Regions from separate parts of the Homo sapiens genome. Here region 1 is linked to region 2. A link means that fine-mapping ties the variant in region 2 to the plasma level of a protein whose gene starts in the linked region. Region 2 holds a variant in brackets. A gene starts in the other region. All regions are shown on their reverse strands.

Region 1 (4,395 bases), not on the chromosome of region 2:
CTGGGCCTCAGTGATCTGGGCAGTGCTGGGCAGGGCCTTCCGGTTCCACTTGATTCTGTGCTTGATGCCCCTCGTCTGGACCGCAGAGAGGTGGCTGAAGAGCAGCATGCAGACAGTGGCCAGCCACCACCAGCTCAGGTGCTTCCTCATCGCGTCAGAACCTGCCAGAGAAACGGCGGTGGGTCAGCTCCCCACCAGGCCTGCCTGGGCTCCCCTGCCCCCTCCCAAGTGCAGGAGATTTTAAGGAAGGAATCGCATCCTTGTGCTATTTATGTGGTCTCAAAAGCATAATTGTTTCCCCATGTTTGGGTTGTGCAGGGTTAACTCAAACACCGAGCTCCTTTGCTATTGCTAGGATTACATTCACTCAGGGCTCTGGTCCCGGTTTCCGAGACAGGTAAGAATGGCAAAGGGCAATTATAGTGGCTTTGAATACGCATGGGAAAATAAAGGAGTGGTGACTTAATACATGTAGGTTTTCTTTGATACTCCCAAGTCTTTCAAATCAAGAAATCCCTGGGAGGAAAATACAATAGAAGAGTTGGAATCAAATGCTGGTGGGCATGGACTATATGTGTGTGTGTGTGTGTGTGTGTATACACGTATATATATACACATATATATGTATATATACACGTATATACACACACATATATACATATATACACACATATATGTATATATACACACATATATATATACGTATATGTACAGACACACACACATACACACACACACACACACACACACACACACACACACATATTTTAGAGACAGGATCTCACTCTGTTGCCCAGGCTGGAGTGCAGTGGCATGATCATAGCTCATTGCAGCCCTGAACTCCTGGGCTCAAGCAATCCTCTTGCCTCAGCCTCCGGAGTAGCTGGGACTACAGGCACACACTACCACACCCAGCTAATTTTTAAATACATGTTGTAGAAACGGGGTCTCACTATGTTGCCCAGGCTCAAGTGATCCTCCCACCTCAGCCTCCCAAAGTGCTGAGATTACAGGCACGAGCCACTGTGCCGACTTTAGATTGTACTTTCAATCTCCCCTCTTTGTTCTTTATTGCTCTGAGCTGGCACTGTCTTGGGGGCATTCTGCCATCCATTCTGAGGAATTCACTGGCTGCTGATCCTAAAGGGCTTTGCAGTAATGAGAGAGAGAGGAGGAGGAAGGAAGGGAAAGATGGAAACGTAGCAAAGGGACCCCTGCCTCCCCTATGTCCAGGGGTCAAGTGTGCTCCAGGCATCCTTTCCAATCTCACCCCTGGGGGACAGTGTGACCATCTGCTTATCCTACTGGCTTTTTATTGCATACTTTCTTCATGCCTGCCACCGTGTTAAGCTCTTCTCTGACATTGCCTAACTTAATTCTCACATAGAGTAGGTACATTATTATCCCCATGTTATAAATGTTGTCCTGGGATTCAGAGAAGTTAAGTAATTTGCCCAAGGCTGCACAGCGGGGAGGTGGCAGACCTGCACTGGGCTCTGTCTAATGCTGCACTGCATGTGTCCACTAGCCATGCCCCACTGCCCATCTGGGTTTCAGGAGAAGACAGTGCTCACACACTGTGCTTTTCACTCACTGGGTATGATGCCCCCTGAGCTGGGCAAAGGGCAAAGGGCAGGGCCCTTGAGGAATTTCGGAGAAAACGAGATGAAAGGGAAGACAGGAGGGCCTGGGGGAACACCAGGAGGGTCCCGGGTCAAGGTGGCCCTGGGACATCCGAAGGGCTGCCACTGATGTCATGGAAAAGCCCCTCACCCCACACCTTAAGGTTGCCTGTCACATTCGGCTCCTGAATCTACAATAGCCATCAAGGAAATCCACTTCCCAAGGCCGACTGTCAGGGCATTCTAGCACCTGGGTCTTTGCCTGTGTGGATTAGGGAAATGGAAGGAGTTCCCATACCGGAGCTTGCCTAAGCTGTCTCCTAGGCAAAGACTTACTGTGAGGCCATGGGGCCCCAGAGCTGGAGGAGGCTGACAGGGAGCTTGTTTCGCCCCTCACACACCCTCCACCACCCTGCTGCAGCTTCCCTAAAAGTGGCTAATGTTCCTCTGATAAAATGTTCAACTCTGATGCCACATTGCTCCTTATATTAAAAAAAAAAGGCAAAACACAGCTGAAGTGATCTCTAGAAGCACATCCAGTCATCTCTAGAAGCCTGCAAAGAGGCCTCACTGACCTTTCCTTGCTTGTAGACATCGCCTCGTCTTTGTCCCAGGGTGGCTATGAGCATCTGGACCCCCTCACCCCACTCTCTCTGCCTCCTGAGCACAGTGAACTCAGACTGACTTTCTCCAAAGAGATCCAAGCATGAAGCAAATATTCATTAGTCTCCTAAATAGGGCCATACTCCACATCATTCCTTTTTTAAGGAGAAATCTTAAATAAGATTAATGGCATAATAGATCATTTCAGGTGAGTCAAATAAAAAAAATAAAAGCACAGCATTCTTGAGAAAGAGATTAGTTTTCATAGGCAGAAGCTTAAAGGCAAAACAAAATCCCAACCCACAAACCCTAAAGTAGCATTTTATTATAGCACCAACTTAGAGAAAGGCAAGCCCAGTGATGACTGGGTATCCTCGCAAGTCTACCCTGAACTTGGGACCCATCCCCAGGTGTGGGAGTAAAGAAATCATTGCATGATTTTCAATCTGGGATCGAGCCTTGATAAGAAACCAGCAGTCCTGACCACAGAAGTGGCCCCCCACGTACCTTGGCTCTCTCTGGAGTGTGCCTCTGGAGCCTCGAGCTGCACAGTCCCCCAGCACACCCTCTTGGCAGCCAGGTCCGCCCAGCTATATAGGAGCTGCCGGGGGAGGTGGCATTCCTGCAGGTCTCCAAATAAGGCAGCCCTTCCCTCCCCGGCAGACCAATCAGGGCTTCCTGGACCACTCCTTCATCCTGAGAAGGATGGACCTTCTCATCACACTTTACTAAGGAAACCACGTGAAAATCTTGATGAAGTTCAGCAAGGCTTCAGAGGTGCCTTTTAGAATTGGAATGAGATGTGTTAGAAGGAAAATGCTTTTCCCATCAATATCTATGACAGATGTGGCTTCAACAAGCCTCGCTGGACATGCATAGTGTCCTGTACCTAAAGGCCGGCCTTGGACAGCAAAGCAGTCTTTGCTGACAGCCTCTGTGGGGAGGTTCAGCTCAAAAAGAGGGCAAGCGTTCACCTGGACCACCACGCCCTGAGGATGGGACCAACAGGGTGTGTGTGTGGTGGTGGGGGGGGGGGGCGCCGGGGGGCGGTTACACTTTCATCGGGTAGTGGGAAAACAGAACTGGTAGGTATGGGGTGGAAGACACGTGAGAAGACTTCCTGGCATGTTGGGCGAGGAATGCTTGAAGGACTGAATTAGCCCAAAGGCCAATAAGTTAAAGATCTGCGGGAACCCCGGGAGCAGAGACACATTGACACGCAGCCAGTCCCCTGGACAGGTGGTGCGGGCTGAGGGCGAGTTCTGCAGAGTGCCTTCTCCTCTACATGGTGTCCGAGCGCTGCGCAGAAGGGGCTGGAGGTGCATTCCTGGGCTTTCCAAAGCAAGAGACTCATTGGTATTGGGTGACCATTTTGGGCCTTATACAGAAGGGACTTGCTCAGGTGTCCCTGTTACAGTTAGTACTGCAAGGCAAAGTCAAAAGTGAATATGGGAGCAAGTATGGGGCCAGATTTTCCTGTAAACAGAATGCGATTTTTATGCTGAATGTGACCCCGTCAGTGTTCACGGTGGATTTGCGTCAGAGCAATTTTGCAAACCAAATTAAACGGTTGTTATCGAGAAGGACAGCAGATAGCGCCAGAGAGCTGACAAAGACCGCAGCCGGTCGGTGGGAAACCCGGGCTTCTGGGCTCTGGGTGGATTTGGGGCCTCCGGTTGGGCCTTTCTTTCTCCTCTGACTTTAACATTTGTTTCACTTCCCCACTTTTTTTTTTTTAAGAACTTTTCTATTTCCTTTCTAGAACCACAGACTTTTTGTGCTTCTGAATACACACAAAACAGAAACACAGTAGTGTAATCTTAGTACAGACTGTTTGCAAAATGGAGATGAAAAAATCAAAATCTCCTAATAGTTCAGTACCCAGAGACAAATGTCAGGACAATTTTGTTTCACATATAGATACTTAGGGCCACAGTGTTTAGAGCTAGAAAGGACTCAGAATTCTGTGGTCCAGCTCCTTTGCATGGTGAGCTCACAGGCCCAGATAGGCTCAAGGTCACCCAGCCAGGCCGGCAGTGCAGCCTCGGCAGGCTCGTTGTCCCATTGTGAACTCTGTGCACTATCCCCCTGCCTGTTCCCACTAGACACAATCATCTCCAACCCCCTCCACCCCTCTTCTTCCTATTCCCTTTCTAAGCAGGACTTTACC
Region 2 (4,395 bases):
AATTTTAATGTTAACCTGGTTGACATCTGACCTTTCCTGACTTTTTCTCAGACTCAGAGATTTTATTACATTACTGGTGGAGGAGGCAAAATTCCATTCCAAATATAATGACACTTTTGGAGCCTGAAAACCTGCAAACTTTTAAAAATGATGTGAGGCAGACTGAATAGTCCTCCTGACTGAAGCATATACACAAATGTGCAATTGAGAATCCCAAGACCTGGCCAGACAGAGCTCTGCAATGTGATGCTTGTTGATTTGATGCTCCTTTGCCGTGAAGGAAGCTTAATGCTTTGTTTCTTTCTCTTTAAATGGACAGGTAGAGTCAGTTTGCATCAGTGTGAATGCATGTAATTAGTACAAGGAATTCTTTTCTCAGTAAATCAACAAGTGTTTATGGAGTGTCTATTACATTCAGCAAAGCTCTCTGGGGATATAAAATATATAGACCTGCTGCTCATAGACAAAATAATTTTAGCATCTACTATGTGCCAAGCTCCTTGTGTACATTATTCTCTCCACATGAAACTTCTGCAGAGTTGACACCTTAGTACCCATTCTACAAATGGGGAAACTGAGGACTAGCTGCGATCACCTGTGCAGTTGTTGCAGCTGCCAGGGTTACCCACTCTCTTTTGTCGGGTGCTTACTGTGTGCTGCACAATGGGCTGAGCTCTGTCTACTGTCTTGTAGCACCCTGTGAGGTAGATTGTATTACTCACCCATTTTACAGAAGAGGTAGGTGACAGCGGGAGAGGCCAAGTGACTTGGCAGCAGGTGCTAGCATTAAGATTCACAGTAGACTGAGCACGGTGGCTCACGCCTATAATCCCAGCACTTTGGGAGGCCTAGGCAGGTGAATCACGAGGTCAAGAGTTGGAGGCCGAGGCAGGCGAATCGCGAGGTCAAGAGTTCGAGACCAGCCTTGCTAACATGGTGAAACCCCGTCTCTACTAAAAATAAAAAAAAAAAAAATTAGCTGGGCATAGTGGTGGGCACCTGTAATCCCAGCTACTCAGGAGGCTGAGGCAGGAGGATCGCTTGAACCTGGCAGGTGGAGGTTGCAGTGAGCCGAGATCGTGCCATTGCACTTCAGCCCAGGCAACAGAGTGAGACTCCGTCTCAAAAAAAAAAAGAAAAAAAAAAGATTCACGGTAGAGACTCTATTGGTTGGTCTGGGCCATCCTAGGCCATTGCCAGACTACTGAGTGTTCCCCTAGAGCACACGCTAGAAAGAGGAGACCCAGACATGAGATGCCCACATATGTGTTTACTTCTGGGAAGACAACGTGCAAGACAGAGCTGAGTTCTGTGGAAGCAACGCCAAGTGTTACAAGAGTTCAGGGAAACAGAAATGTTGCTGAGGGCTGGAAGTGCTGGGGCAGGTGGGTCTGAGAGAGGACCCTGAGCAGAAGTGGGGTTGCATCCCAGAAAAGGTGAGGTGTGATGCTGCCCCTTCTTCTTGCTCTGTGGTTTCTTTTCCTGGTTTCATTTACCTCATCACTACTCTGCCAGACCGGTTTGATCACCTGAGTATCTGTGTCACTGCTGGGTGATCCATGTGTGGTCAGATCCGTGTGCCCTGAGCGTCCTGACCTGCTCCTACTTCCCACCACTACTGCCATACACACGTTCCACATCCATGCCTATTCCATCCCTACCTCTCTCTTTCTATATATATATATATATATACACACACACACACACACACACTTGTGTATATACACACATACATAATGTAAGAAAATATTCCATGCATATAAATATTATCTACATGTAAAATAAATATAATAGAGATAGTTAACTTTAGGCTCACACGTCTCCCAAGCAAACCACAAGCTTATGAGTGCAGGACTCTTACGTGTTTCCTTCCGCAGAGCCCTGCACACTGTAGGGGCTGGGGCGTGACTTGGCGAGTACAGCAAGTCTGGCTAGAGTTTCTCAAGGGTGTGCCCATGGGGATTAGTGGAAAGAGCTCTGTGCTTGGGTTGGGTGGTTTGCCCACTCCACCTTTTATTCTCCTTGGGTAAGTGGCTTGGGACCTCATTTGCCCTTTCCAATGGGATAGCAACATGTTTCTTTTTGGAAGCTACTGTGAAAGATGATGATCTGGGAGGGACTTGGGACACAGGCTTATTTGTTACACAGATGC[C/T]ACCGGCCTTGCATCTCTCTTGTGAGCTCAGAAGTTGCTTGACATCACTGCCTTTTTCATCAGGTGGTTCATAGGAAGAGGCCAAGAGAGAGAGAAGGATGCTGTATTTATGGGAAAAGGCTACCAGAATTTCCATCCGAGGTTGGTGGTCCATTCCTCTACCTATGTGGAAGGCAGGTTCTCCTTGACAATAGCCAGGTCTGCATGTGTCTTCCACTCAATCTACAACGTATCCACGGAGAGTGACCTTGTACTCAGTACTCAGTACTCCAGCCCCTTGGCTGGAGTTAGCTCTGCCCGCTCCACCCCTGTGCCTTTTCTGGCCCACTTGAAATTTGATGTCTTGGGTTGTAGCCTATTTTTAAGGTTGAGTCTCACTCTTAGACTATGAGCTCTTGAAAAATAATAACTGTGTCTTATTTGTCTTTGCTCTTCCACTTACATATAGGAACTACTAATGACATTTAGCAAATGTCTCTTTATCTTTTGATGGAGCAGAGAGAGGTCTGAGGATGAACTGCTTTCATCTTCTCGCTGTGTGATCTTGCACGGGTCCTTTCCTATCCCTCCTCTGCCACTCTTCTAGGACCGAAGGGGTTCGAGGGTGACCTTTCTGGCCACTTGCAATTGCTAAGAGTGTATTGATTTGAGAATTAAAGGAACGTGGCTCTTGAAATGTGTGTGCGGTAGAGGCCATCCAAAATAGCTAATGAAGAAACATCCTGGGGATTACGCCAAGTTCACAACGCATTTTAATGAGCCGTGAGTGTGTGTGAATGCGTGTGTCGACCACATGCACATTGATGGCTGTGGCAGGGAGGACGCTGTTTCTGAGAGTAGAGTCCTCACTTCTGAGAAACTTACAGAAGGTGGAACAGATCACGCCGTATTTCATAGCAGCCTAATTCTGACATGCATCTGCAAGCCTCATAAGTCGTGGTTTGGTCGGTGCTGCCCATCAAATCAACTTCCTGAACTTGTTTTCATCTGAACTCCAAGGCAGCCCAGGCGCGGGGGGAGCGCAATCGCTCGTGTCTGACTGGCTGCCTCTGAAGTCGTCCGTTACCAGTAGTCTGTTTAGAAGGTGGATTGTTAATTGTTTGATTTTTCTGCCAACAGGATTCCCTGCAAATTAGAATTGTAATCGCTGTGGGTATTTCCTGAATTAAAAGAAAATATATAATAAAATAAATAAATATTAGTTGTTTGGTTGTATAAGCTTTTGAGACCTGCGAGGCTCCTCATCAATTATTAAACTTGGCCGAAGATGACATTCCTAACTAGTGAGTGTGCCTGGAAAAAAAAAGACGCTGGCTAGAAAGCTTTGAGGCGCAAATTTCCACGTTCTTACTGCTTGGCTCTGAAAGTCTATGCCCGGAAGCTTTAATTTCTTTAATACTATATAATATAATTATATAGTACTTAAAAAACATGTAGTGTAGTTATTAAATATAGTTAGAATTTTAAATGTATCATTTGATATATTTAATACACACATGTATATATGTATTTTTAAGTGGGGTTTGGGCATTATTTAGTGTTCACACCTACGGAGCTCATTTGTCCAGCGCTATATTTAGGCATCAATAGGAGCGCATTAGGTAGCAAATAGCAACATGCTGGATTGGACACACTTCATAATTTGATGGCAGGAGAAAAATGGCAAAATATCGCTCTGGTCAAAGTTATTAAAGGCCAGGTTCACTACACGGTTCTGGTTAGGAGATAAAATATGAGAGGGCAGCTTACATATTGCCGTGATTAAATATTTACTGTTCAAAGAAGATTCACAGAACTTTTTAAAATTAATGGCTTCGAGTCTTTGTTTGGATAGTATCACAAGTATTGAACCATTTATTGAACTGTTTGCTGAGCTATTTTACTATCGTTAGTGACATCCTACATTGCCAGCCTTTCTCTCTCTCTCTCTCTCTCTTTCTTTCTCTCTCTCTTTTAAAAGAGAAATAGAGTGGAATCGCTCCCTTTCTGCTCTCACCAGCTGGTAGATATAAATTATATATTAAACTGTATTTGCAATGGATCACTGCAAGTGACAAGTAGTTTTCCGAAGGCTTTGTCATTGCAATGGAGTGTGCGCCTTTCGTACAGTGGTTAATATGAGTCCTTATTCATATTGTCCAAGTCTTCAAAAACATAATTCAGAAAAATGGGCAGCACTTAATAGAGCTAATCTCTTGTTCTGATTCAGCCTTCAAGATCAGCAGCCTGTAAATAAGTAAAAA

Direction of the effects. Alleles are on the strand shown, and positions count from the first base shown. The strength of an association depends on the size of the effect and on how common the allele is.
For the plasma level of the protein whose gene starts at base 2,793 in region 1, C is the low allele of the variant in region 2 and T is the other (weak association).

What was found. A credible set is the group of variants that fine-mapping cannot tell apart. PIP is the chance, under the fine-mapping model, that this variant and not a neighbour inherited with it causes the effect. The UK Biobank Pharma Proteomics Project read protein levels with antibody pairs (Olink). The fine-mapping took linkage between variants from a reference panel, not from the people measured, so its PIPs are less certain.
Region 1: PRND starts here. The variant in region 2 is the best candidate, but not a certain one, in a credible set for the plasma level of the PRND protein (UK Biobank, PIP 0.56).

What each region holds. Positions count from the first base shown.
Region 1 is chr20:4,720,307-4,724,701 of GRCh38, reverse strand. PRND (prion like protein doppel) reads right to left here and starts at 2,793. Exons shown (of 2, transcript NM_012409.4): 1 at 2,733-2,793; 2 at 1-161. The coding sequence starts at 150. RefSeq lists an enhancer at 3,871-4,090.
Region 2 is chr10:129,034,277-129,038,671 of GRCh38, reverse strand. LOC124902559 (a long non-coding RNA gene) reads left to right here and starts at 1,919. Exons shown (of 2, transcript XR_007062390.1): 1 at 1,919-2,026; 2 at 2,216-3,353. RefSeq lists an enhancer at 3,761-4,395. The variant C/T (reference allele first, on the strand shown) is at 2,153.